Linked DNA regions of Homo sapiens: regions 2, 3, 4, 5, 6 and 7 are each linked to region 1. Evidence: fine-mapped expression QTL. A gene starts in region 1. Each other region holds a variant in brackets. All regions are shown on one strand. Distances are from middle to middle.

What was found.
Region 2: its variant is fine-mapped to the expression of INPP5B in anterior cingulate cortex (GTEx, PIP 0.94).
Region 3: its variant is fine-mapped to the expression of INPP5B in B cells (Schmiedel 2018, PIP 0.95).
Region 4: its variant is fine-mapped to the expression of INPP5B in pancreas (GTEx, PIP above 0.99).
Region 5: its variant is fine-mapped to the expression of INPP5B in whole blood (TOPMed, PIP above 0.99).
Region 6: its variant is fine-mapped to the expression of INPP5B in cerebellar hemisphere (GTEx, PIP above 0.99). The same link has a PIP of 0.9 or more in cerebellum.
Region 7: its variant is fine-mapped to the expression of INPP5B in skeletal muscle (GTEx, PIP above 0.99).

The regions. Positions count from the first base shown.
Region 1 is chr1:37,944,689-37,948,765 of GRCh38, forward strand. INPP5B (inositol polyphosphate-5-phosphatase B) reads right to left here and starts at 2,365. Exons shown (of 24, transcript NM_005540.3): 1 at 2,302-2,365; 2 at 1,564-1,646; 3 at 1,068-1,162. The coding sequence starts at 1,620. LOC105378651 (a long non-coding RNA gene) reads left to right here. Exons shown (of 5, transcript XR_001737983.3): 5 at 591-939. RefSeq lists enhancers at 2,187-2,716, 2,294-2,533, 3,923-4,077.
Region 2 is chr1:37,810,740-37,814,816 of GRCh38, forward strand. MTF1 (metal regulatory transcription factor 1) reads right to left here. Exons shown (of 11, transcript NM_005955.3): 11 at 1-4,077. Among named protein-coding and RNA genes, the nearest start is that of YRDC, 4.6 kb to the left of the region's middle. The variant C/T (reference allele first, on the strand shown) is at 2,168.
Region 3 is chr1:37,896,781-37,900,857 of GRCh38, forward strand. All of the region lies in intron 7 of INPP5B (inositol polyphosphate-5-phosphatase B), which reads right to left. Among named protein-coding and RNA genes, the nearest start is that of MTF1, 39 kb to the left of the region's middle. The variant C/T (reference allele first, on the strand shown) is at 2,199.
Region 4 is chr1:36,951,409-36,955,408 of GRCh38, forward strand. The region is part of intron 1 of GRIK3 (glutamate ionotropic receptor kainate type subunit 3); the gene reads right to left. Among named protein-coding and RNA genes, the nearest start is that of GRIK3, 81 kb to the right of the region's middle. The variant T/C (reference allele first, on the strand shown) is at 2,020.
Region 5 is chr1:37,923,381-37,927,457 of GRCh38, forward strand. The region is part of intron 7 of INPP5B (inositol polyphosphate-5-phosphatase B); the gene reads right to left. Among named protein-coding and RNA genes, the nearest start is that of INPP5B, 22 kb to the right of the region's middle. RefSeq lists an enhancer at 2,783-3,022. The variant C/G (reference allele first, on the strand shown) is at 2,199.
Region 6 is chr1:37,799,041-37,803,117 of GRCh38, forward strand. It overlaps MANEAL (mannosidase endo-alpha like), which reads left to right. Exons shown (of 4, transcript NM_001113482.2): 4 at 527-2,093. The coding sequence ends at 1,163. It overlaps YRDC (yrdC N6-threonylcarbamoyltransferase domain containing), which reads right to left. Exons shown (of 5, transcript NM_024640.4): 5 at 3,905-4,077. Among named protein-coding and RNA genes, the nearest start is that of C1orf122, 6.7 kb to the right of the region's middle. The variant C/T (reference allele first, on the strand shown) is at 2,290.
Region 7 is chr1:37,888,506-37,892,582 of GRCh38, forward strand. It overlaps INPP5B (inositol polyphosphate-5-phosphatase B), which reads right to left. Exons shown (of 24, transcript NM_005540.3): 8 at 2,853-2,949; 9 at 1,052-1,219. Among named protein-coding and RNA genes, the nearest start is that of MTF1, 31 kb to the left of the region's middle. The variant A/C (reference allele first, on the strand shown) is at 2,523.

The DNA.
Region 1 (4,077 bases):
CTCCCGCCTCAGCCTCCTGAGTAGCTGAGACTACAGGCATGCACCACAACACCCAGCTAATTTTCTTATTTTTTGTAGAGATGGAGCCGGGGAGCGGGAGGTGGGGCGGGGTAGGGGGGGCGGTCTCGCTATGTTGCCCAAGCTGGTCTCGAACTCCTAGGCTCAAGCAATCTTCCTGCCTCAGCCTCCCAAAGTGTTGGAATTACAAGCATGAGCTACTGCACCTGGCCTAACTCACTTTACTCTTTAATATGGACAAATCGAGGAGTAAAACAACTTGCTCAAGATCATGTGGTTCCACCAGGTGCGGTGGCTCATGCCTAAAATTCCAACACTTTGGGAGGCTGAAGTGGGAGAATGACCTGAGGCCAGGAGTTCCAGCATGCAGCTATGAGTGCACTACTGCACTCCAGCCTGGGTGACAGAAAGAGACCCCGTCTCTAAAAAAAAGATCATGTGAGGCTGGGCACGCTGGCTCATGCCTGTAATCCTAGCACTTTGGGAGGCCAAGGCAGGTGGATAACTTGAGGTCAGGACTTCAAGACCAGCCTGGCCAACGTGGTGAAACCCTGTCTTTACTAAAAATACAGAAATGAGCCAGGCATGGTGGCGGGCACCTCTGTAATACCAGCTCCTCAAGAGGCTGAAGCACGAGAATTGCTTGGACCTGGGACGCAGAGGTTGCAGTGAGCCAAGATCACCCCACTGCACTCCAGCCTGGGCAAAGACCAAGACTCCTTCTCAAAACAAACAAACAATAGATCATGTGGCTTGTTAGTAACAAAGCCTGGGTTTGAACCCAGGCATTTGGACCACGAGGCTCAAGATCTGGACTAGTATGTTAAACTGTCTCTTCTCAAGAAACTTCCTCCTTAGATCTTGAGGATTATGAGTTAGTACGTGTGCAGGGTTTAAAATATAGTGTTCAAAAAATATTAACTATCATTGTGATAATTATTCTAGGAGACTCAGACCCTGCCCTGGAGGGACAGTTGAAGTTCAGCTGGAGGGTGCAGTGATGAACAACCCCATGGCCCAGACAGGTGGGGACCAAGCCCCTCACTCACGCGTGTTCCTGGCCGCCGTGCTCCAGGCGGTAGCGCACGAGTCCCAGGAGGCGGCTCTGCCGGCTGTCCCCCTCACACAGCACACCTTGCACCGCCTGCGGCTCAGAGTCAAGGGAAGACAACCCAGAGGCGAGGCCTCTCCCCACCCAGGCTGTCCCACCTTCCCTCTGTTCCCCTGCCCCCCCAGATTCACTGTGTGGCCTTGGGTGAGCACTCAAACCATGTGCTGAACTAACAGACAAACAGGCTCTCTAAGCCTTCCTTATCTATGAAATGAGGATAATAATCCCCAACTTCATAGGGAGTTAGGAGGATAACTGCGTATTTAAAGCATTTGGCTGAGAGTCCAGGACTCAGTAAGTACTTAGTAAATACTGATTTCCTTCTCCCCTGATGGTTCAGAGGGGCAGGAGAGGGGATAGACACCTCGACACCTTCCATTCCTCTTCCCAAGGCCAGGGCAGGCTCAGGGCCGCAGTTAGCACAGGAAGGATATGATGACGCAGTATTCCCCCTCAGCCAGCGTCTCCTGGATTGCCACAGACTGGTCCATGCTGGCCCCTGCTGAGCGCACACACCCTGTGGGAGGGGAGATAGGAGCCCCGCTTTGGTCAACAAGTTACGCATGGGGTGGTGGAGCTGCCTCAGAGGGGTTGGGGGCAGGAGGGAGGGGCCTTTGCAGAGGGAGATGGTACCGGGGAGGCCTGATCCTCCTCCTCCTCCTCTTTGTCCTCCCTAGAATAGGCCTTTCAGTTTTTAGGGATAGGGGTCCAGTCCCTTTGCCCCGCTGGGATCTACAGTTTGCTATACTGCCTTTGTCTGGGAGGGCATCCAGTTGCTCTTGAGTGTGGTCTATCCTTGTTGGAAGTGGGGTACGTGGATTGGAGAAGGGGACCTAGTCCCTTTGCTCCTAGGACATGGCTCTTCCTCTCTTTTGGGGACAGTTTTTGTTCTGCTAGCGCCTCTCTGGGAGGTGTCAGTGGTGTGTCCATGTGGGGTTCAGGGAACATCCCCTTACTGTCATTCAGGAGGGTCCCATTCCTCTTTCCTTGGAGACAGGAAGTGTCCCATTGCTGCTTGCCCTTCACCCCCGCCCCAGCAGGCCCATTGCATCAGCTGCAGGCCGGGGGTTGGGGGGTGTCCCAGCCCTCAGCTTGCCCACTCCCTCCTGCCCAGCCCTGCCCTGGCTTTCCTGCTCTGCTCCCACCCACAGCTCCCTGACATTGTCACCTACCTCCTGAGCTGTCACCACAGGGCGCACGGGACTCCGCTGCCCCAGGTTCCGGGACAGTGACTACATTTCCCAACAGCCCCTGCGCCACATGGTGGTCAGTCAGCCTGCAAGTCCCAGCATGCCCGAGTCAATCGTGGGGTGGGGAGTCTCTCCATCCGTGTTAACCCCTTAGGCCCTGGGGTACACTGGGCTTCCTATACCAGAAAGGTTTTCTAATGATTGCCCTCACTCCCATCCCCAGCCCTCTAGGTCATGGGGCCAGAGCTTCCCACCCAGAAGGAAGATGGTCACATTTTATCTTAGGGGAAGAATATAATGCATTTTTATTTTCTCCTTAGTTCCATCCTCAGCTCTTCTCACTCCAGGGTAGACAACCCGGACCTCTACTGAAACTCTTCCCCTAAAATAACTACCTTCTCCTGGTTTAATGGAGGGAGAACCAGACTATGAAGAACCATTATGTCCATTTTCCAGGTGGAGAAACTGAGCCTTGGATAGGTTAAGCAGTTTGACATTAAGTCCTGCAGCTAGCAGGTGGCAACACTGGGACTCCACTGAAAGTCTGACTGCAACTCCTGGGCCATTTATACCGCTACACACTGCCCTATTTCCTCCCTTAGCCCCACCCAGCCCTCCTGCCACACAGGGCTGTTTGAGGCTACTGGGTGTGAACGCACTTTATAAAGGGTATGACACTGTTCCTGTCCGGCAACGTCCTTCCCCTGATCCGCCTGGCTTTGTGACCTTGGCCAAGACCTTTCTTCCCTTGGGACTCAATTTCCCCATCTAAGATAAGGAGGTTACCCAAGATGGACAAAAAGAGCCAGCACAGGGACTGGGCACAGTGGCTCATGTCTGTAATCCCGGCACTTTGGAAGGCCAAGGAGGGAGGATCGCTTGAGGCCAGGAGTTTGAGACCCCATCTCTAAAAAAAAATTTTTTTAAATTTAGCCGGGTATGGTGGTGCATGCCTGTAGTCCCAGCTACTTGGGAGGCTGAGGTGGGAGGATTGCTTGAGCCCAGGAGTTCAAGGCTGCAGTGAGCTGTGATTGCTCACCCAGCTCAGATAAGGAATGCTAGGATCATTCTCACTTGGCCTATTGGCTGTTTAATTAAGCTGTAAGCTCCCGTTGGACAGGACTATGCCTTTTCATCAACATACCAGCAGTTTCTGGCACACAGTTATCTATGGAGTTAGTGAATTACTTTCTGAACTATTTTAATAAATACACCTTCTCTCAAGCTTTGGCCCAAACTGAAGGAATGGGCCTTCAGTGCTGGGGAGGGGGTGACTGTTGTGACTTGTGAACAGTTTCCCTTCCTCTTTCCCCAAGTGAAGTGGCCATCCTAATGACCAGTTCAACTTTGCATATGTAAACCCCTTCCAGAAACAGTCGTTGCCTTCTTCTCAATCCATTTCTTTTCCTGGAAACATCCACAGCACAAATGGAGCTCAAGTTTATTTGAATTCAGTGTCTAAGTCATGTGGACGATGAGGGGAAAGGGGATTGACTCAGACCCTTAGGATCAAGGGGTGGGGTCACTGCAGGGAAGCAGAGGAACCCCAATTCCAGCCCTGCTCTAGTGTCAAAGCCTGGCGAGGAGGGTCTGGGCAAAGTAGATGGGGCTGTGTGCTTTTTATGATGAAGAAACTGTCCCTGCAGGATTTGGGGGTCCTCCCACTGGGTGGGGGTCAGGCAGGAGGTTTTCTGTTTTTCCAGACAAACCCTATCCTCTCCCTGAGATTAGGGCTGAGGGCCTGCCCCCTTGGGGGGT
Region 2 (4,077 bases), 130 kb before region 1:
TTGTCTATTCTATAGCCTGAGAATTGAAGATAAAATGGGGGAGGTGGAGTAAAGGAAGAAAGTTGATAATGATTCATGGGATGTAATGTTTGTTTATAGGATTTAATGAAGGCTGGAGGCCTTTTTGCTTAAGGAACCAACACAGGTAGTATGGGGAGCAGTATGGAAATGGCTCATGTTGCCCCCTGCCACCCATGCCTCCCCAAACATATTTCTGATTGGTGGTGTAAGACAATTGTAAACTCTTGAGAAATATTGTTGCAGTTCCACAAATCAATGGTTTCAATCACTCTGGAAAAGTCTTTAAGGACAATGGATGTGATTACAAATATAAAAGTCTAGAAGGTGCCAGGTTTCTACCTAGGAACAATCTGTTCCTTCCTTTCAGGCATCATTTTGTAATGGTGAAGAGGGAAAAGATGGCGAGAGACCAAGAAGTGATGAAAAAGGGCCTCAACAGTCAGCAGAAAACAGGACCCACAGCAGTTCTTCAGAGAGCCTGAGGGGGCGCCCTGGGGCACACAGGGAAGGCTTGCATAGATTGAGCGGTTGCTGAGAATGCATAATAGTGTTTCCCTATGGACAGTCTCACAGCACAGGGCTGATTGAGCGGAAAAACGCTGCCAGGCCAGGGCCACATGGGACAACGACCATCAAGCTACACATATTGCACCAAGGTAAGTGCTTTTCTTTTCACACCTCAATTTAACTTTTTATTCTGAGCAAAAAATAAAACTTTGTGGAAAGTATATATATGTATATATACACACAAAAGAAATTGCAGCAATCGGGTTAAAGATAAAATAACCTAAAGTGCTTTTTTATTTTATTATTTCTTTAATATACCAATATGAGGTTCTGCAAACTTGTCCCTCTGGACACATTCAGCATTATACAAAGTCTCTCAGGAAAACCCACCCACCCTCCAATATCCCCATCAGTCCACAGCCTTGACCCTGAAAATAAAACTCTCCGATCTACCAACTATCCCAGAGGTGAAGAAGAGAAGCCCCTTGCCTTTTACTCAGAGAGATCTTCACATCTTAAGGCCCCTCCTGGGCTTTGTACCATGATCTCCTTCTAAACGGAGGTGGAATTCAATAAATGACACCACTTCTGTCACCAAACTGGTGGTGCCCCCATGAGACTGGCCAGACCCTGCCAGCAAAGACTGGGCCACCTTCCCTCAATGCCCAACCTACCTGCCTGGGAAGGGCCAAGTTCACTAAGGCAGTTTGGTGGTGCCAGCCAGTTTCCTTACCACCTCCTAAGTCCATGAACCCCAATCCCTGGTGCTAAGCACCCTTTGAAGCGGTTGTCTAATTGGAGATGTTAGTAGGAGCTAGAAGATAACGTACAGGGTGAAAATGGTTAAGTTTACTATGGGAGGGGAAAAAGGCTTGATTTTTACCTGCTAGAATTCTACAAATCCTCCCTAACCTCACCCTAGGTTCATTTCCCAAGTTTGGGAAACCACACTCACCATGAAGGTTCTTTCTGGCTCCAGCTTAGCTAGGGGCCCTCTCTTCTCCAAGGTCCTCGGCACTAGAGACCAGGCTTATGGAAGGACAGGTAGGAAAAGAGAACTGGAAAAGGAGGGAAAGAAAGACTGCCTATCCTGGGAAATAAACCTGATCTTCACAACCACTCACTGGCATTTTAAGCACATTCCTGATTTTTCAAAAGCTGATTGGATCTGATAGTCTCTCTTGTAATCTAGAGTCACCCTCAAAAGGCAGATACTTCAGCTTCTTCAACTGGAAAAATCTGTCAGCCTAAACACTGTTTAAGATGCTGCTTCGTCACCCCCGATCTTTGAGAGTGAAAAGGCCACTGACCTGGGTAGGGCCCAACATGAGCACAGCCCTGGCTAACCAAGAAGAGTCGCTATTTAAACTGTGGGTGCTTCAGATGTCCTTCCCTGGGCTCCTATTTCCCACTTCCGCCCCAGGGAACCCAAATCCCAGGTGACCACAGGATGGGGATATGGGAAGGTCATTACTGCCCTCTGATACAAGCTTACTTTGGGGTCCCATCACTACTCTCTCAGAAGTTGTAAACAGCAAGGGCCCTACCTCAAAACTTCCCATGGGTGCGAGGCCCAGAGACAGCCAAGGACAACTCATGCTCAGCAGTTGGTTTTCCAGGAGGACTGGAAACCTCCTGC[C/T]TTATCAACTTCTGCTGAGGTCAATGGTCAACAGAAGCCACAATCCTTTTGGGGAAGGGAGTGCAGAAGGTCAAAAAGAAGTCAATTCCCTAGACCAGGCATGGTGGCTCACACCTGTAATCCCAGCACTTTGGGAGACTGAGGCGGGAGGATCACCTGACGTTGGGAGTTCGAGACCAGCCTGACCAACATGGAGAAACCCCGTCTCTACTAAAAATACAAAATTAGCCAGGCGTGGTGGCGCATGCCTGTAATCCCAGCTACTCGGGAGGCTGAGGCAGAATTGCTTGAACCTGGGAAGTGGAGGTTGCGGTGAGCCAAGATTGCGCCACTGCACTCCAGCCAGGGCAACAAAAGCAAAACTCTGTCTCAAAAAAAAAAAGAAGTCAATTATTCTGGCTAGGGTCCTGGAATGAGAAATTGGCTGCTTGTAGTTAAGATTTCTTACTGCCATTTCTCCTCATGGCAGTAACAACATTCACCACCACTGCCCTCTTTGTCTGTCCCTGAACATCCTTGCTAAAGGCAGGGAGGGCCTCTGGCTCCAAGGTAAATTATCTGTTCTCAATAATATCTTGGCTGGCCCTGAGCAATGGCTCAGAGAACAGGAGAGTGACCAATGCAGATCCCTTTACATTAGGGAATGAAAATGCAAGGCAAAATTATGGCTGCTTCCTGCCTGACACTGTTGGCTTAGAAGAGCAGCCTTGTTTGTGGAACACCACTCCTTGCTCAGGGCAAGGAAAGGGCTCTTGGGAGGCAGAGGCCTATTCTGCACCTCAGGCCATGCCTGGCCTCTGAGCTCGGTGAGTTTGGTCAGCACTCATGACTATGTTAATATAGCCTGTTGAGGGAAACTTTTCATGCTAGTATGGATTGTATCTTTTATTTTAAGAGGCAATGACTTGGAGCCAAAGGCAGACATATGGATATAATTCTATAACACACACACACAATTTTTTCCTATAACACAACTTAATGAAACATTCCAAATGAGATAACTTATTGCAACATTTCAGGCTTTTTGGTGGAAAGGGAATTTTTTTGTTTTGCTATACCCTGAGTAGAAGATCATCGTTTTGTGTTTCTTTTTTTTTTTTTTTTAAATAAATCACATGACTAAGCTGAGCAAGTCACATCCTTGTTTGCACTGTATGAGGCTGTATGCAAAATCCAGAGGGGGGCAGAGATGGAGGGGGCAACCCAAAGCCTGGCTGGAACCTGGAACCAGGACACCTGGCCTGCCAATTACATGCCACCTCATATGAATTCCCTTAAATCTGCACCTTCTTCTGATAAGCAAAATGCAGCCCTTCTGCTCTGAGGAAGAAAATACCATTAAAAAGAAGGCAGACCACCAAACAGCACTGGCCATAAGCCACAAGTTCACTCTAGGACAAAACAGCGATGTTCCCCAAGGAAAATTCACTGCGATCTGCAAGCCCTGGCAACCAACCGAGAGAAAGAACCAGGAAGGCAAGGACAGTGATCATGTTGCTAGAGCCTGCTTTGCACACACGTCATCAACAGACAGCAGTCAACAAGCTGCCTAGGGCCTCTGCAGAGCCAGATCAACCCCACAGCCTGTGAGCCAGGCCTTAAGCTGCCTATTTGTGCTGAAGCGGGCTGCAGAACGACCCGTGTTATCCACCCTGAGCACCACCAACACTAAGCACAAATGACAACACCATCTCACCTGAACCCTGTCCAACTCACAGCTGCCTCACTGGCCTTTGCCACTGCCCTCTCTGATGGAGCAAGGGTCTGGCCTTCCAAGCAAATGTCAGCCTCAGATTCAAAAGACACATAGGAAGGAGCAACACCCAACACACTGAAAACTCCTGCCCGATCCACAAAGACCCCAGTGCAAGCGATGGGCAGCATCAGATTGATGGAAACCACACCCTTTC
Region 3 (4,077 bases), 48 kb before region 1:
GGGGTCAGCCCCCTGCCCGGCCAGCCGCCCTGTCCGGGAGGTGAGGGGCGCCTCTGCCTAGCCGCCCCTACGGGGAAGTGAGGAGCCCCTCTGCCCGGCCAGCCGCCCCATCCGGGAAGTGAGGGGCGCTCTGCCCAGCCGCCCCTACTGGGAAGTGAGGAGCCACTCTGCCCGGCCAGCCGCCCCGTCCGGGAGGGAGGTGGGGGGGTCAGCCCCCCGCCCGGCCAGCCGCCCCGTCCGGGAGGTGAGGGGCACCTCTGCCCGGCTGCCCCTACTGGGAAGTGAGGAGCCCCTCTGCCCGGCCAGCCGCCCCGTCCAGGAGGGAGGTCGGGGGGGTCAGACCCCCGTCCGGCCAGCCGCCCTGTCCGGGAGGTGAGGGGCGCCTCTGCCTGGCCGCGCCTACTGGGAAGTGAGGAGCCCCTCTGCCCGGCCACCACCCCGTCTGGGAGGTGTACCCAACAGCTCATTGAGAACGGGCCATGATGACAATGGCGGTTTTGTGGAATAGAAAGGGGGGGAAGGTGGGGAAAAGATTGAGAAATCGGATGGTTGCCGTGTCTGTGTAGAAAGAGGTAGACATGGGAGACTTTTCATTTTGTTCTGTACTAAGAAAAATTCTTCTGCCTTGGGATCCTGTTGATCGGTGACCTTACCCCCAACCCTGTGCTCTCTGAAACATGCGCTGTATCCACTCAGGGTTGAATGGATTAAGGGCGGTGCAAGATGTGCTTTGTTAAACAGATGCTTGAAGGCAGCATGCTCCTTAAGAGTCATCACCACTCCCTAATCTCAAGTACCCAGGGACACAAACACTGCGGAAGGCCGAAGGGTCCTCTGCCTAGGAAAACCAGAGACCTTTGTTCACTTGTTTATCTGCTGACCTTCCCTCCACTATTGTCCTGTGACCCTGCCAAATCCCCCTCTGCGAGAAACACCCAAGAATGATCAATTAAAAATAATGATAATAATAATAATAAAATAAAATTAAATAAAAATAAAAATAAAATAAGATAAAAGTAGTGGCACATGCCCATAGTCCTAGCTACTTGGGAGGCTGGGGAGGGATGGTTACTTGAGCCCAGGAGTTCAAGGCTGCAGTGAGGTGTGATCTTGTCACTGCACTCCAGCCTGGGTGACAGAGGGAGATCCCACCTCTAAAAAATATGGCAAGAAAAATAATTTTTGTACACATAAAAACCTGCACAGAAAAGTTTATAGCAGCGTTAAAATCACCAAAAACTGGAAGCAACCAAGATATATTTCAACAGATGAATAAACTGTGATACATCCATATAATAAAATATTAAGCAATTAGAAAAATTAGTTATCAAGCCATGAAAATACATGAATGAATCTTAAATGCATATTGCTGAGTGAAGGAAGTCCATCTGAAAAGGCTATTTATTATATGATTCCAATTACACAACATTCTGGATAAGACAAAACTATAGAGACGGTAAACAGATCAATGGTTGCCAGGGGTTTTGGGGGTGAGGGTGGGGTCAAATAAATGAAGAACAGGGGACTTTTTAGGACAGCAAAACTATACTCAAAAGAAACTATAATGGTGATACATGGTAGTATCTATAGCTTTCAAAACCCACAGATTTTTACAACACAAAGAATGAAACTGGGCTGGGCACGGTGGCGCACGCCTGTAATCCCAGCACTTTGGGAGGCCGAGGCGGGTGGATCACGAGGTCAGGAAATCGAGACTATCCTGACTAACACGGTGAAACCCCATCTCTACTAAAAATACAAATATTTAGCCGGGAGCGGTGGCAGGCACCTGTAGTCCCAGCTACTCGGGAGGCTGAGGCAGGAGAATGGTGTGAACCCAGGAGGTGGAGCTTGCAGTGAGCCGAGATCGCGCCACTGCACTCTGGCCTGGGCGAAAGGTGAGACTCTGTCTCAAAAAAAAAAAAAGAATGAACCTTAATGTATACAAAATTTTAAAAAATCATTTAGGACGTCAGGAGATTCTGGAGTAAAATGCAGAAAATGACAAAAGTGTCTAACCTATATCACAAAGGTATGAAACCACCTCATTGAAGGGAGTAGGGGAAAAAGTGTTTACCTAAGTAACTTTAGAAATGAGTGGTATCTATAAGACTAAAGGCACCAGGAGCAGTGGCTCACGTCTGTAATCCCAGTACTCTGGAAGGCTGAGGCAGGCGGATCCCCTGAGGTCGGGAGGT[C/T]GAGACTAACCTGACCAACATGGAGAAACCCCATCTCTACCAAAAATGCAAAATTAGCCAGGTGTGGTGGCGCATGCCTGTAATCCCAGCTACTTGGGAGGCTGAGGCAAGAGAATCGCTTGAACCCGAGAGGCGGAGGTTGCAGTGAGCCGAGATCGCGCCATTGCACTCCAGCCTGGGCAACAAGAGTGAAACTGTCAAAAAAAAAAAAAAAAAGACTAAAGGCAAGTGGAACTGTACAGAAGCATTGTACTCTAGTTGATAATGGTGTTCCATGGGGGTCCTGATTAACAATTCTGAGGCCAGACGCAGTGGCTCACACCTGTAATCCCAACACCACTTTGGGAGGCCGAGGTGGGCAAATCACCTGAGGTTGGGAGTTCGAGACCAGCCTGACCAACATGGAGAAACCCCGTCTCTACTTAAAATACAAAATAGCCAGCCGTGGTAGCACATGCCTGTAATCCCAGCTACTCAGGAAGGTGAGGCAAGAAAATCGCTTGAACCTGGGAGGCAGAGGTTGCGGTGAGCCGAGATCGCACCATTGCTCTCCAGCCTGGGCAACAAGAGCGAAACTCTGCCTCAAAATAATAATAATAATAATTTTCTCAAGGTACCTCTAGGCCAAAAGGAATCCCTAACAGTTCTACTTAAGTAGTTAGGGCCAAATAAGTATTTAAGTCCTAACAACTTAGTAGCAATTTGAAAAAATAATACACATAAAAAGATTTCCATTTCATCTTTTTTTTTTTTTTTTATGGAGTCTTGCTCTGTCGCCCAGGCTGAAGTGCAGCGGCACGATCTCGGCTCACTGAAGCTTCGCCTGCCGGGTTCACGCCATTCTCCTGCCTCAGCCTCCCGAGTATCCGGGACTACAGGAGTCCGCCACCACACCCAGCTAATTTCTTTGTATTTTTAGTAGAGACGGGGTTTCACCGTGTTAGCCGGGATGATCTCGGTCTCCTGACTTCATGATCCGCCCGCCTTGGCCTCCCAGAGTGCTAGGATTACAGGCGTGAGCCACTGTGCCCGGCTGAACTACGTTCCACTGGAAGTTTGTCTGGTGTTCCCACAGATCTCCATGTTTACCTTGAATTTTTTTTTTTTTTTTTTTTTTGAGACAGCGTCTCACTCACTCTGTCACCCAGGCTAGAGTGCAGTGGGGCAATCTCAGCTCACTGCAGCCTCTGCCTCCTGGGTTCAAGCAATTCTCGTGCTTCAGCCTCCTGCGTAGCTGGGACTACAGGCAGATGCCACCACACCCAGCTAATTTTTGTTTTCGGTTTTTTTTTTTTGAGACAGAGTCTCTCTTGTCACCCAGGATGGAGTGCAATGGTGCGATCTCAACTCACTGCAACCTCCGCCTCCAAGGTTCAAGCGATTCTCCTGCCTCAGCCTCCTGAGTAGCTGGGATTACAGGCACGTGCCACCACACACAGCTAATTTTTGTATTTTTAGTAGAGACGGGGTTTCACAATGTTGGTCAGGCTGGTCTTGAACTCCTGACTTCATGATCCGCCCGCCTCAGCCTCTCAAAGTGCCGGGATTACAGGCGTGAGCCACTGCGCCCGGCTGAACTACTTTCAACTGGAAGTTTGTCTGGTGTTCCCACAGATCTCCATGTTTACTTTGAATTTTTCTTTTTTTTTTTCTTTTTTTTTTTTGAGACAGAGTCTCACTCACTCTGTCACCCAGGCCAGAGTACAGTGGGGTAATCTCAGCTCACTGCAGCCTCTGCCACCTGGGTTCAAGCAATTCTCATACCTCAGCCTCCCGTGTAGCTGGGACTACAGGTAGATGCCACCACACCCAGCTAATTTTTGTTTTCGGTTTTTGTTTGTTTTTTTTTTGAGACAGAGTCTCTCTCTTGTCACCCAGG
Region 4 (4,000 bases), 990 kb before region 1:
TGTTTCTCCTTCCTTCTCCTTTGTCTTCTTCCCACTGCACACTTGGGGGGTGGCCACGTGACTGCTGGGGGACCAAGTGGCCAGAGCCCAAGGCCCCCTCTCCTCGGCAGCATGGCTTCTGTCCTACTTATGTCGAACTGGCAATGCTGGTCGCATGCAGATTAATGAGGCCACGGCTGAGGCCCTGCATTGGGGGACTGGCCTTGTTTCTAGGTGACCAGGTACTTGAGCCTAAATTAACTTTGACTACCCTTTGTGCTCTCCCCCTTGGGCAGGGCAGCAGGAAAATAATGGGGGAGAAAGAAGAGAAGGTGAGGAAGAGGAGGAATAAAAGGGGGAGGGAGAAGGAGAAGAGGATGAAAGGGGCTGAGGAAGACGAGGAGGAGGGAGAGGAGAGGGCAGAAATGGGGGGAACAGGGAAGAAGCAGAGAGAAGGAGGTTGGAGGGCGGAGGGGCGGGAGGACCACAGGAGGCAGGGCAGGTAGAGGGCAGCTGCCCCATGCTCTGCCCACTCTGCCAAACAGCCAGGGCCTCTGCCAGGTGGGTTCTGTCTTGTGGGGAGGAGCATCGAAGGGAAATGAATGTTCCTGCCAGTCAGCCACCTCAGCCCACAGACTGTCAGCACAGGGCCTGCCCGGCTTTGCAGATGCAGAAACAGGGTCAGCAAGGGAATGTGATTTTCCCAAAGTGACAGGGAGTGGGGATGACTGGAACACAGGCCTCCTGATTCCCTGTCCAGTGTTCTTTCTGCTGTACAATACGTACCACTCAGCCACGAGAGCCTACTCATCCCTCAAAACCCTACTCAAAGAGCCCTTCCTCCATGGTGTCTCCTCAGGGCCCACGATGTCCGTTAGGGCCTCCTCCTGACCACTGTCTTCAGTCCCCTCCCCTCTGGACTGAGCTGTCATCCAGGCAGCAGCTGTGATGATCCCATCTCTGTGCCTCTGTTCCCAGCACAGGGCCTCTGCACAGAGCAGGTGCTGAATGAATGAATGAATGAATGAGAGTAAATAGGATCAGTCAAATCTGGATGTGAACCTCCAGACCACCTCTCTCATTAGTTTTGTGACCACTAGTGAGTTTCTTCACTTCTCTGGTCCTCAGTTTTCTCATCTCTAAAGTGGATCCCTGACAGGGTTGGAAAATAAGTTACATAATGCAATCCTTCATTTACACACATAATGAACACGCACTGTGTGCCAGCAGGCTCTGATGGGTGCCGGGTCAACAGTGGGGAGGAACTTGCCTCCAGGGAGCTTAGAGTTTGGTGGGGCAAACAGATAATGAGAAAGCATATGAATGAATGAATGAATGAATAAATGACTATTCCATTGTGATAAGTGCCAGGAAGGAAAAGCCAAAAGGAGATGATAGGGAATACTGGGTGTTGGGGGGTCTAATTTATACATGGTGTTCAGGGAAGGGTTCTTCAAGGTGAGAACACTTGAAGCCAAATCTGGAGGAGAGGGAACGAGCTATGTGCCTGAGAGAAATGCTCCAGGTAGAGGGAACAGCACGTGCAACACTTGTACAAGGCAGCTGACAGGGAGAATCAGCATCACCATCAGGGTGTCCATGCTGTGTCCTCCGAAGGGCTCTGCAGGCTGACCCAGGACTACTTGGGTGAGGAGGAGCGGGAGGAGGAGGAAGAGACTGTGCTCAAGTGCCCTTTACTCATGCATTCATTCAGCACACGTCTGTTGGGCTCCATGTCTGTGCAGACACAACACTTCACTGCTAGCACTGAGGACAACGTGTGGACAGCCCTGTCCTTGCCCCTCCCCCTGCCCCTGCCTCATAGCACTTAGTCAGGAGGAGCTGCCCTTGGGCTCTGGCAAGTGCGGAGCGTTCCCAGCTTGAGCAGAACAGATGGCAAGAGGACCTGGCCTGGCACAGGTAGAGGGCAAGAGGAGTGAGGTCCAAGGGGGCCTCCCTGCAGATATGCTGTTGAGCCGAGACCTGCAGGATAAAGGAGTTAGTGTGCCAAGTGAAGGGCAGGAGTCATCCTAAAAGCAA[T/C]GGTGAGCTATTGATGGCTTTAAGCAGGAGAGTGCCATGATCAAAATTGTAGATCTCACATGTGGAACAGATTGAAGGGTGAGGGCTAGGGCATACGTAAGGAGAAGAGCTTAGGTGGTGATGACAATGGCCTAGGGCAGGCTGCTGGCAGACAGAAGAGGGCTTGGGTATGCTTAGGTGGTGAATCTGCACAATGGGGCCATGGACCAGGCAGGGGAAAGGAAAGGTGACTAGGAAGGAGTCGGTAGGGACCCCACAGGTTTCCAGCTCACGGAAGTGGCACCCGAAGGTGCCAGCTGGGGCTGAGTGCCTTTGAGATGTCCAAGCAGAGATGCAGGGCAGGTGGTGAGAGATGCTCAGAGGGGATGCTCACACAGGCTTCACTCGCTCCGCAGCAATCAAAGCATGGCCCTGAAGAAGCTCCCCTGGAGGGGAAGCACAGAGGGGGCCCTCAAATCAATGGCTTGATTGAGGGAAGCTGCCGGGAAAGGACAATTAGAGGGCAGAGGACCCCCAGCCCCTGTCTCCCAAGGGTACTGCCCCTGCAGTCAGACTGCCCTTGGCCTCCTTCCTTCGTGCCAGCTGAGCCAAGCTCTGATGATGGGAAACCGTTAGTCCTAAGAGGAAAGGGATCTACTAGGTGCAAGGGGTCAAGGGGGACGAAGGGCATCCTTTCCGCTGGGGAACCAGATGAGGGGCTGTGCCAGGGACTCTCAAAGACAAGAATGCTTCTCAGGGTGAGATAGAGGGGGGCATTCCTGTTGGGAAGCTCTCACCCCTCACCAAGCTCACCTCTCTCTAGCACACCTTACATCTGAGCTCCAGGATCTTGCCACTGCACTAGCCTAAGACGTCTTGGAATGCTGGCCCATGATTACCCCTGCTGCCTCTCCTGGAGCCCAGCACACAGCCTCAGCATCAGAGGACTTGCTCAGTGAAGAGTCACGGAATGCCTTTCAGTAGAGGAAGCCACATGCCAATCAGAGCAGCCAGAAAGGTCATCTGCGGGAGAAGTGAGAGTGGCCTGGAGGAGGCCCCCGACCCTGAAGGCCAACAGAAAGCATGTGGGGAGCCACTCCAGGGTTCTGGGCAAGGCAGCATTGTGTGGCATGTGTGGGTCTCCAGGACTCTTGGGGTGGGGACGGGGGCTGAGGCCAGCAGCAGGAGCACAGGTAGCACATGTCTGTGTTCCAAAGGACAGGTCCCTGAGGTTCCCCTGATTACTGTAAGGAGGCTGGGGAAAGAGTGTGCATGCACATACATATGCATACACAGGTCCACACACACGCAGAGAAGCACATGTGTACACACCTGTGCACGCACAAGGACACACACATGCATAGACAAATCACAGAAAAAAACCAGCTACAGACACATGAGTTCAGGCCACAGAAAGGTGCCCTTCCTCACACAAGTATAAGTGCATAGTGGGCAAGTGCCTGCAGGTGTGGACCCAGGGACACATGCCTGTGTGTACCCACCTGTGCACATGCACGTTCACACACACGAACACACACACACAGGTCCATAGGAGCCCTGGGTAAGGGCCTATTCCTTTGAGAACAGGCAGGAAGCCCAAGCCAGCTCTACATTGGATGGTGGTGCTATAAGTGGTGTCAGGGTGGTAGACAGAGGCCTCAGCCACATGGGCCTCCAACCCCAAGCAGACTTCAGCAGTGAGGGGCCACCCCAGAGTGGGTCCTGAGCTCACTGATTTGCTGAGGCTCAGATGAGCAGCCCGCCAGCCAGCTGCTTCCCCTCCTGAAATAGCAGCCCTAAATAAGTGACAGCCCACCTGGCTAAGGGTAGGGCCTGGCATGGCTGTCATCAACCCTGCCAGCAGGACAGGAAGGGGCAGGTGTGGGGCGGTGGGGTACAGGGGCTGGGCCTGACCCAACACCACCCAAACTGTGCTTCCCCGTCCACACACCGAGCAGCGCACACGTGCACACAAACACGTGGATGGATACACAGAGGCTGA
Region 5 (4,077 bases), 21 kb before region 1:
AGCAGGCTGAGGTCAGGCAGTGCAGGACTTGACCACTATACTAAGGAATTTGAGCTTTATTCTATAGGCAACAGGGAGTGGTACAATATTGAAGTTCACATACAAAATAGTAGAATACGATCAAAGTTATGTTCTAAGGAGATCCCTAAAGGAGAGGGAAACTTGAGGTTGGGAAGACTTACAAGAAGACTACTGCAACAGTTCAGCTAAGAGGATACCAACATGAATAAGGGGGATTTTGAAATGTGGGTAGATAGGAGAGGCACTGCAGAAAAAAAAAAATGAACAGAATTTGCTTATTAGACATGAGAGCAGAGGGAAGAGTCAAGGATACCCTGAGGTTGTTAGTGACTGCATTCAGAAATATGAAAATGGAGGGAGGAAAGGAGTAAGTGCAGTTCTTTTTTTTTTTTGAGATGGAGTCTCGCTGTGTCGCCCAGGCTGGAGTGCAGTGGCGTGATCTCTGCTCACTGCAACCTCTGCCTCCAGGGTTCAAGTGATTCTTCTGTCTCAGCTTCCCAAGTGGCACGCAGATTACAGACGCAAGCCACCACACCTGGCTAATTTTTGTATTTTTAGTAAAGACAGGTTTTCACCATGTTGGCCAGGCTGGTCTCAAACTCCTGACCTCAGGTGATCCACCTGCCTCAGCCTCCCAAAGTGCTGAGATTACAGGCCTGAGCCACTGTGCCCAGCCAATGCAGTTCTTATCAGGAAGAAATCCCCCTAGGATAGACCCTGAAGACAGCAGCCAGGTTCTCAGTTCTCAGAGGTGAGCATTTACCATTTCTTTTTCTTTTTTTTTTTTGAGACAGAGTCTCGCTCTTGCCCAGGCTGGAGTGCAGTGGCGTGATCTCGGCTCACTGCAACCTCCACCTCTGGGGTTCAAGCGATTCTCGTACCTCAGCCTCTTGACTAGCTGGGACTACAGGCATGTGCCACCCTGCCGGGCTAATTTTTGTATTTTTAGTAGAAACAGGGTTTCGCCATGTTGACCAGGCTGATCTCAAACTCCTGGCCTCAAGTGACCCGCCCACCTCAGCCTCCCAAAGTGCTGGGATTACAGGCATGAGCCACCGCTGCTGGCCAGCATTTCCCATTTCTAATTGTATTTCCCAAATGAAAGCACGTCTAAATAATTAGCATTGCTTAAGTCCTGTGTGACTTTCCAGGAGGCAAACATTCACTCCCATTTTAAAGACATAAGAGGAAAGTTGAGACACACGTTTAATATCGTACAAAGAGGTCAAGCGCGGTGGCTCATGCCTGTAATCCCAGCACTTTGGGAGGCAGAGGCGGGAAGATCACTTGAGGTCAGGAGTTTGAGACCGGCCTGGGCAACACAGGGAGATCTCGTCTCTAAAAACAAAAAGAGGCTGCGCATGGTGGCTCACACCTGTAATGCCAGCACTTTGGGAGGCCAAGGCAGGCTGAATCACTTGAGGTCAGGAGTTCAAGACCAGCCTGGCCAACATGGTGAAACCCTGTCTCTACTAAAAATATAAAAATTAGTCCAGGCATGATGGCTCACGCCTATAATCCCAGCACTTTGGGAGGCCAAGGTGGGCAGATCACCTGAAATCAGGAGTTCAAGATCAGCCTGGCCAACATGTTGAAACCCCGTCTTTACTGAAAATACAAAGAGTAGCCAGACATGTTAGCACATGCCTGTAATCTCAGCTACTTGGGAGGCTGAGGCAGGAGAACTGCTTAAACCCAGGAGGTGGAGGCTGCAGTGAGCAGAGATCACACCACTGCACTCCAGCCTGGGTGACAGAGTGAGACTCCGTCTCAAAAAAATAAAATAAAATAAAAATAAAAATAAATAAAAACAAAAAGAGAAAGTAATAGTGCACCAAGGAACCATGAAGAAAAGAAAAAGAAAAATGTCCAGGCCTCTTGACATCCACTTTGTTTAAATTCTCATCATTGGCATTCCAAGAAAGAAAGTCTCTTCTCATTCATATTTGCTAGCTTCAGTTCATGTATGGATCACCAATAACAAAACTGTTAGAGCGTAATTTATTTTATATATTTATCTATTTAAATTTAGAGATATCACTATGTTGCCCAGGCTGGTCTGGAACTCCTCAAGCAAGACTCCTGCCTCAGCCTCCGAGTAGCTGGGACTACAGGTGCGCACCACTGTGCCGGGCTAACAGTATATTTTAAGTAGCAAAGAAAAACATGCAAGTCAG[C/G]TAGCATCTATCCTCCAACAGTACAGTATCTTTCCTCTAATAAATATATTGATGCCTCCCTCTTCCTGAACTGTCCCTCCCTGAGGATTTTTCTGTTCAAAGCTCCACTTCTAACTGAGTGTTTGTGGGTCACCTCACTTGCTCTCAACAATAACTGCAGAATTCCAAAACAAACTGTTTTCAGAAGAAAAAAAGAATCTTTAGGGGGTTCTCTTGTACTAGAAACATAAAACTGGATTAAATGGCCCAAAGAAGGAAAATGGAGAGGGGAACAACAAAAGGAAGAAGAAAAACGAATACAGTTCTCTTTTGTTTAAGGAAACAAAGTGACTTAAAATAAGTTACTTAGGAGCCTGCAGAGCTTCCCACAACGGTGGAAATGATGGGCAATATTTGTTCTCTAAGATAAACAAAAGCAAATTTATTTTCTCCATGCTAAAAGGATATGTTGGTCACACAAGTTTTACCTATTAGTACTGACAAAACAAGATGAAAGAGAGAGTGAGAGAGAAAACCACCCCGGGGGCTATTTTGCTAACATGCTCTCTGGCTTCTACTCTGGTAAACTAGGTTACCCTTTATGTTACCCTGAGATATAAATAGCATTCATTTCCTTTCACTGGCATGACAGACTTTAATACTTTGTTTCCTGGGTCCAGAAGAAAAAATACTTAAACACATCCCCTTGTAAATTTGAGTTACTACAAAGCTGGTTCATTTCTTTTTTTTTTTGAGACGGAGTCTCACTGTCGTCAGGCTGGCATGCAGTGGCGTGATCTCAGCCCACTGCAACCTCCGCCTCCCAGGTTCAAGTGATTGCTTCAGCCTCTCAAGTAGCTGGGATACAGGCGCACGCCACCACGCCCAGCTAATTTTTTATATTTTAGTAGAGATGGGGTTTCACCACGTTGGCCAGGATGGTCTTGAACTCCTGACCTTGTGATCCGCCCACCTCGGCCTCTGAAAGTGCTGGGATTACAGGCTTGAGCCACCACACCCGGCGAAGCTGGCTCATTTCTAATCAACTTTGGATTAAAAAAAAACAAAATGTATTTGCTATTACTGCTTTGTTAAAATAGCCCAGAATGGCCCCTGTGGGACTTCTGAGTAGCCATTTCCTTTTTAGTGCATAGTTCAAAACCCTCCAGAACACAGCTCCAGGTTTTGCATGTACCCAGGATGCAATGCAGGTGAACATTTTACAGACTGACTTGGATAAGTACTGGGCCCTGTACAGGATCCTCAATGGGGTTTTCTGAATAAGAGCAACTTCAGTTGCTAGATGGAAATAATGAGGTATTTCTCCCAAATCAGACTTCACTCTTTTTAAGGAAAGAAAAAGCTGCAAAAGGAAGTTAACAGCATCCCTGGTCATCTAGTGGTTAGGAAGAAAAAAAAAGAAAAGAAAAAAGATGTTAAGAACAGTGAGGCCAGGCGCGGTGGCTCACGCCTGTAATCTCAGCACTTTGGGAGGCCCAGGCGGGCAGATCACAAGGTCAGGAGATGGAGACCATCCTGGCCAACAAGGTGAAACACCATCCCTACTAAAAATACAAAAATTAGCTGGGTGTGGTGGCGTGCAGGTGCATGTATGTAGTCCCAGCTACTAGAGAGGCTAAGGCAGGAGAATTACTTGAACCCGGGAGGTGGAAGTTGCAGTGAGCCAAGATCGTGCCACTGCACTCCTAGCCTGGTGACACAGCAAGACTCCGTCTCAAAAAAAAAAAGGAGCAGTTAAATAAGTGCAGGAGCAGAAAGACTCCTACCAATCTACCGATTCAACTACCAATCTAAAGTCAGTGCAAGCTGGGCTTGGCAAGAGAATCACGTGAACAAGCTGCCACTCAACCAAAAGCATTACCTGACTTCAACACCACAA
Region 6 (4,077 bases), 150 kb before region 1:
GAAAAAAGTAGTAATAATAAGAAGAAAAAAGAAAAGAAAAAGGGTCAGCTCTGCAAAGATCCGGAGGCAGGGAGAAAATTCCAAGCAGAGGGCTGGCAGATGCAAGTCCCATAAGATGGAACAAGCTTGCATGACACATGAGAGCCGGATAGAAAGGCCAGATGGGGAGTAATAGCTGGGAAAAGAGCAGGAATGGAGTAGGCAGGGCCAGATCAAGTAGGTGGGAATAATGAATGGATTATATGGAGGCAGGATGGGAGCCTGGAGACCAGTTAGCTGGCTGTTGTTGCAATCCAGATGGAAGACGGTGGTGGCTTGGCTAAGGGTAGGGAAGTGAGGCTTAGGAATGACAACTGGAGAGAGGAAGGAGGGAACCAGGTTCTTGCTTAGAGGCATGATGACTCCAACTGTGGAGACTGACTGGCTCCAGAACTGGGCTGTGTTGCATCCGTATCTCATCCACGGGAGGTCCTACAGCTGTGCTGGTCTCTCCCATCCAGCTGAGGCTCTTCTTTCTCCTTCTCAGGTATGGCTCCCATGGTGCATTTTACCGCTATAAGAACAGCATGGGCAAGAGCCTCCCACTCTTTTATATCTACGACTCATACCTGACGTCCCCTGAGGCCTGGGCCCACCTCCTGACACCAAACGGGCCCCATTCGATCCGCAACACGCCCTACGATGGGGTCTTCATAGCGCTGCTGGTGGAGGAGGGCCACACCCACGATATCCTGGCCGCCGGATTTGACGGCATGTACACCTACTTTGCCTCCAATGGTTTCTCCTTTGGTTCTTCCCATCAGAACTGGAAAGCTGTGAAGAACTTTTGTGATGCCAACAACCTCATGTTCATCCCCAGTGTGGGGCCTGGCTACATAGACACCAGCATTCGGCCCTGGAACAACCACAATACGCGCAACAGGGTCAATGGCAAGTACTATGAGACGGCCCTGCAGGCGGCCCTGACAGTGAGGCCCGAGATCGTTTCCATTACCTCCTTCAATGAGTGGCACGAGGGCACCCAGATTGAGAAGGCCATTCCCAAGAAGACACCCACCCGCCTGTATTTGGACTACCTGCCTCACCAGCCCAGCCTGTACCTGGAGCTGACACGCCGCTGGGCGGAGCACTTCATCAAAGAGAAGGAGCAGTGGCTCATGTGAGGGGCCTGTAAATGGGCGTGAGGTGCTGATGTCCTTGCCTTGCTGGAAGATGTCACCATGTGGGGTTCAGCTGAGGTTGTAGCCACTCACTCGTTCCCAGGTCAGAGGTCAGCAGATGGGTGTTTCTGGGTGGGCCGTCAGGCATGGGCCTGTGCAACACAGAGCCCGTTCCTCAGGCGAGTGGTGCTGAGGTGCTCTGTGGTGATGGGAACGGCAGAGGCTGGCAGGTGACTGAACTTAGCCCAGGGCAGCTCCACATCCTGGGAACACTTTCATGTAACCCCTTCTAGTTTTGAACTCTGCAGCAGGCTGGTGCTGTGTAGTGGCCACCCAGTCACCACCCTTGGAAGGGTGTCAGGGTCTGGGCTCGCATGCACCCTGCTCCCTTCTGCCAGCCTGCATCCTCTCCTCAGGCCTCCTTCCCACATCATCTGTCTTCTCTAAGTTAGGGAACCATATTTGAGACTTTCAAAAAGGGAACTTCTAGGTTTAAGCTCCTCCCAGTAGATTCCTGAACCCAATTATCAGGAAATCATCCTGAGCACTCACAGGTTCATTTAACACTCACTCATCAAGCACCTTCCTATGTGCTAGGTGCTGGGGAAAACTTGACCAAGGAAGAGTTCCTGTCCTGAAGCTTCCAGGACCCAGCTTTCCTTTTCTGGTGTGGCCTTGTAGCTAGTGCCTGGGCACAGGTGTTTTTCTTTTTGCAGTTTTACCTAGTGCTGGGAGTTCAGTTCTTTTTCCTCTAGAAAAATACCTCTGTGCTCCAGAGCCTAATTTTTCCCAGATGCATATTTAGCTCTAGGGAGAGGACTAGGAGGAAATCCCCCTCCCTTTAGCTGCCTGAACTGACTGAGGCCCACTCACTAGAGCCATGTTCAGTGCTACTGTGATTAGTAGTAATTAAATATGAACTGGTATTCTCAAGTAAGCATTCCTTTTGCTCTCTTTAAGACCTCACAGATTCTGACCTTAGATTCTGTGACAAACTGATACAGGAGCTGGGCTGGCTATGGCTTTACCACAACAAGTAGGTTTGCTTAAGAAATTACTAAACAATGGCTGGGCGTGGTGGCTCACTCCTGTAATCCCAGCACTTTGGGAGGCCGAGATGGGCGGATCA[C/T]GAGGTCAGGAGATCGAGACCATCCTGGCTAACAGGGTGAAACCACGTCTCTACTAAAAATACAAAAAAATTAGCCAGGCGTAGTGGTGGGCGCCTGTAGTCCCAGCTACTTGGGAGGCTGAGGCAGGAGAATGGCGTGAACCCGGGAGGCGGAGCTTGCAGTGAGCCGAGATCACGCCACTGCACTCCAGCCTGGGCGACAGAGCGAGACTCCGTCTCAAAAAAAAAAAAGTTACTAAACAAGGCTGGGCGTGGTGGCTCACACCTGTAATCCCAGCACTTTGGGAGGCCAAGGAAGGTGGATCACCTGAGGTCAGGAGTTCGAGACCAGCCTGGCCAACATGGTGAAACCCCATCCCTACTAAAAATACAAAAATTAGCTGGGCGTGGGTGCCTGTAATCCCAGCTACTTCTGAGGCTGAGGCAGGAGAACCGCTTGAACCTGGGAGGCGGAGGTTGCAGTGAGCCAATGTGGCACCACTGGACTCCAGCCTGGGCAAGAGCAAGACTGTCTCAAAACAAAAACAACAAACAAACAAACAAAAAGAAAACACAAAAAACATTACTAAACAAGATTTCTAGAGGGAATTAACAAACCAGTGCTTATTTACCAATAAACTAATACGCTAATTGCAGGAACCCTGATTAAAGCAGGCCCCTGTTAACACAAGATTCTTAGGATATACTTGGAAACAGGTGCATTGGAAACCACTGTACTGAGAAGTTTATGGGCTCAAGACTGAATTGGAAGCTAGGCGTGGTCGCTCATGCCTGTAATCCCAGCACTCTGGGAGGCTGAGGTGGAAGGATGAGTTCAGGAGTTCGAGACCAGCCTGGGCAACACAGAGAGACGTGTCTTTAAAAAAGTAAAAAATGGGCTGAGTGCCTTGGCTCATGCCTGTAATCCCAGCACTTTGGGAAGCCAAGGCGGGTGGATCACTTCAGGCCAGGAGTTCAAGAACAGCCTGACCAACATGGCAAAACTCCATCTCTACTAAAAATACCAAAAAAATTAGCAGGGTGTGGTGGTGCACACCTGTAGTCCCAGCTACTCAGGAGGCTGATGTGTGAGAATCACTTGAACCTGGGAGGCGGAGTTTGCAGCGAGCCAAGATCGTGCCACTGCACTCCAGTGTGGGCAACAGAGATTCTGTCTCAAAAAAAAAAAAAAAAGACTGAATCAGAATTTTGGGAACTAGGGTACAAGAGGGAAGGGGAGGAAGGAGGAAATAGACCCCAGTGGTCACCTCAAGGACACCCAGCCCCAGTTAGGTAACTGATATTAAGCCCCACCAGAGAGATGAGCAGGCCTGGCCACCTGGCTTTGGGGCTTAGCTGGGGAAACCAAGGCAGGCAGGGACAGCTGAAAGGGTTGGATGTTGACCTGTAGTAATTTACAGAAGGTAGCAACACTGGCTTCATTTAACACACACACAATCTGAAAAATACTAAACATGGGAAGGCCAGGGGGCAGAGGCAGCCATTCTCACACACTGCTAACAGCAGTGTAACTTGACTCAGTTCTTTTGAAGGCTAATCCATACTGAGAGCCATAAATACTTCCTACACTTTGACCTACTCTCCTAAGGAAATAATTCAAAAGAAGAAAAACAAACCATTTACAAATATGTTTAATAGCAGCATTTCTTTAAAGAAAAACAAAGTTCAAATGCCCAATAATAATTATGTTTAACACTTGGTACACATATAAATAGACAAAAGGCTGCGGAGAACACTGGATTTAAATAAAGGTGTTATGGGTATAATTAACTATAATTTATTTTATGA
Region 7 (4,077 bases), 56 kb before region 1:
TGACTTGCGGTCTGTCATGGTATCTGTTACTTTTGTGATAACAACTTCAAATAGTATAGGCCTACTCCGAACATTCCCACTTCCTTTAAACAGCCATTACCCAGGCATTATCTGCATAATTATTTGCCTTGTATATACTACTGAAATGAAAAAATGAAAAGTGCTTTGGTAATTACTTTTGGCAAGAAAGCAACACCAGTATTCAAAAGGCTATTTCTTCACCATAATTCACAGTTTGTATCCCTAGAAACAATGTTATTTTATCTTATAGTCCCAATGCAACGATTTTGAAAGATCTAGCAGAATCCCACAACCTTTATTAATTTAGCTTTTAGTAATCTTGCCTAAAAAGATTACCAAACACCAGCTAACTTCATTTTAGTAATTTCATTTTAAATGACTTTCTTCAAAGGCCCAGAATGCCAAGGGAGTATAAAACCTTGGAGGGATACATAAGAATCAAGAGGCCAGGTGTGGTGGTTCACACTTATAATCTCAACAATTTGGGAGGCCAAGGCGGGAGGATTGCCCAAGCCCAGGAGCTTGAGACCCATGTGGGCAACACAGTGCGACCCTGTCTCTACAAAAATTTAAAAATCAGCACATGTGTATTACCAGCTACTCCAGCAGCTGAGGTGGGAGGGTTACTTGGGCCCAGGAGGCTGAGGGTACAGTGAGCTGTGACTGCACCACTGCACTCCAGCCTGGGCAACAAAGCGAGACCTTGTCTCAAAAAGATAAAACATAAATAAATAAAAGAATCAGGATGGCGCTCCTTCTTCTGTACCCATTTGTCTCCACAAATATTTCTGTAACTATCTGCAAGTCGTGTCACTCCCACTATACCACACCTATCACCGTGCCCACCTAGAAAGGGCACAGAATAAATGCCTGTTAATAAAGAATGCATGGAATCACTCATTTTGAAAATGAGGGGAGAGATTCTATAGAAGAGTATGTCTCCAAATCCAGGTATAGGAGGAAGTGCTCAAATTCCAGAGTGCCAAATGATCATTCTGCTCTGAAAACATCCTAGAACCCAGTTAGCTACCTGAAGTTCTGGATATAGGTGTAATCCTCTTCTTTCTGTAGTAGATGTGATTTCACAATTGTATCTCGCAGTCCAAACTTCTGCATGGATAAAATATGAGCCTTGTCCGACACTGTGATAGTGGAGGAGCGAACCATGTCAGTAATTTCGGACTTGGATTTATTCTGTCTGGAAAAACAGAAGTATTTTTTTCATATGTGGATGAGTCCCCATGGCAAAATGAATGAATACAAAGCTAAAAGTTCCCCTATACAAGCATCTAAGTCACAGAAGACTAAAGGAGGCCAAAGTAAAATTTATCTACTAAAACAACACTATTTCTATGTGGAATTAAGTAAATTTATATTTTGTTGATTGTATAATATGTTGGTCTGGAGATTTTCCTAATAATAGAGTCACAGAATCTCAGACCAGAGGGGCATCTTAAAGATAATCTAATTCCCTCAGTTCTAAATGAGAAAAATGAAACCCAGTGTCATTAACGCCTCACCCACATGAATGGTGGCAGAGTATGGGATTCAATCATGTAATTGACAAGCCGGGCATGGTGACTCATGCCTGTAATCCCAGCACTTTGGAAGGCCAAGGGAGGCAACTCACTTGAGGCCAGGAGTTCGAGATCAGCCTGGCCAACATGGCAAAATCCCATCTCTACCAAAAATACAAAAATGAGCTGGGTGTGGTGGCACATGCCTATAATCCCAGCTCCTCGGGAGGCTGAGACACAAGAACCACTTGAACCTGGGAGACGGAGGCTGCAGTGACTGGGTGACAAAGTGAGACTCTGTCTCAAAAGAAAAAAAAAGAAAAAAACTGTAAAACCCTCTAGGTCCTTTAACTTGATCATTCTATTCTGTACATCTATTCCACAGGAATAATCCAAAATAAAAAGAAAGGCAATGAGAATTTATATTTTATTATTATTTGCATTGTACTGTATTTATAGTCGTAACTAAAATACTGATACAAGTAAGTGTTTTATCTTGACCAGACAGATTCTGGAGATATTCAGTAGGGGGCACTGGAGTACAGACTTCAGATATTTATATAATAACACACCTCAGGGGCGAGTCAGGAAAGAGTAAATAAAACAGGAAAAAAAGTCACTTCAGAGTCAGGAAACACCTAAAAGAATGAAAGAGTGAAATCAAACGTTTCTAATCTACATTTTCAAGGGAGGGCTAGACTGCCAGTTCCAAATCCTAGATTGACCACTTGATAATTCTGGGACCTTGGGTGAGTTATATAACTTCTCATTACCTGAGTTTCCCTAACTGTAAAACAGAAAAAAGTACTTACCTCTTAGGCTAAAATAAGATAGTCCAAATAAGAGCAGGGTGCCTGGCAGTAAGTGCAAATAAATGTCAGGTATTATTAAGAACATTTCCAGCCAGGCACGGTGGCTCATGCCTGTAATCCCAGCACTTTGGGAAGCCAAGATGGGAGGATCAGATGAGGTCACAAGTTCGAG[A/C]CCAGCCTGACCAACATGGAGAAAACCCATCTCTATTAAAAATACAAAATTAGCCAGGTGTGGTGGCACATTCCTGTAATCCCAGCTACTCAAGAAAGCTGAGGCAGGAGAATCACTTGAACCCAGGAGGTGGAGGTTGCGGTGAGCCGAGATCATGCCACTGAACTCCAGCCTGGGCAGTAAGAGCGAAACTCTGTCTCAAAAAAAAAAAAAAAGGACACTTCCTAGGCCAGCTACCCTGGGACAACTTACATTATACCCAAAATGGTCTCAGTACTGTGAGGAGAACCTCAGTCCTACAAGGGACAAGTGAAGGGAGAGTTGCATTACCTTGGTTGCAAGCTTTCTGGTTTATCTTGACCCCTGGAGCTTTGGTCCATAGGCACTCCCTTCCCATTTGGTCTCAAACCATCAAAGTTAGAACCACCTAAAGGGAAGGAGAAGAAATTAAAATATACATACATAGGCTGGACATGGTGGCTCATGCCTGTAATCCCAGCACTTTGGGAGGCCAAGGTAGGTGGATCACCTGAGGTCGGGAGTTCGAGACCAGCCTGACCAACATGGAGAAACCCCGTCTCTACTAAAAATACAAAATTAGCCAGGCATGGTGGTGCATGCCTGTAATCCCAATTACTCGGGAGGCTGAGGCAGGAGAATCGCTTGAACCCGGGAGGCGGAGGTTGCAGTGAGCCAAGATCGTGCCGTTGCACTCCAGCCTGGGCAACAAGAGCAAAACTCCATCTCAAAAACAAACAAACAAACAAATAAATAAATAAATGAAACATACATATGCTTTAATATACAGACAACAGCTTCGGAAATTGTAGTCTAGGAATTATTGGTAGTCCACATATTGCTTCAAAGGGCCTATGCTGATGTCTGGGTGAAGTCCCACAGACCATACACAGAAGGAGAAAAAAGTATCTCATCCAGGTATCTTTACTGCTGAAAGTGTAACTATTCCAGCTAGTCTAACTCCCTTTTCTTGGATAAAGGGTACATTAAGGAAAGAATAAAACCATGAAATCTGAAAACCTGAGTTTTATCACCTGCTTTATTATTTATTACCTCCTGACTTTGGAAAAGCCATCTAACCTCTCTCAATCTCAGTAATTTGACCTGTCCTGCCTTCTTCACAGGTTTAATGTAGGGTCAACTGAGTTGACATATGAGTAGGCACTTTAAAAGCAATACAACATATTATAAAACATAACATAGCGACTTCCACTCTGAAGAGGAGAAAGGCAAGGGTCAGAGATTAAAACTGGAAATAGTCTAAGAGCTCTAGAAAATGAGAAGCGCTTGTCATTGTTGACAAATTGCCTTGAAAACCAAAGAGCCCAAGGGCCCAACCCAGAAATATTTTGGGAAAGTCGTTAAACCAAGATAAACCTGGAAAGGAAAATTAATCTGCCAATAGCTTCTCTGCTCTTTAAAAGCCAGATCTCTTGTCAACAGGGAACAACATGAAGCGGTCACAGAGAGATGTGATTTTAAAACCCAAGTTATGGGAAGGAGCTCTGGAGGAATGAAACACCACTGAAGAATTTTG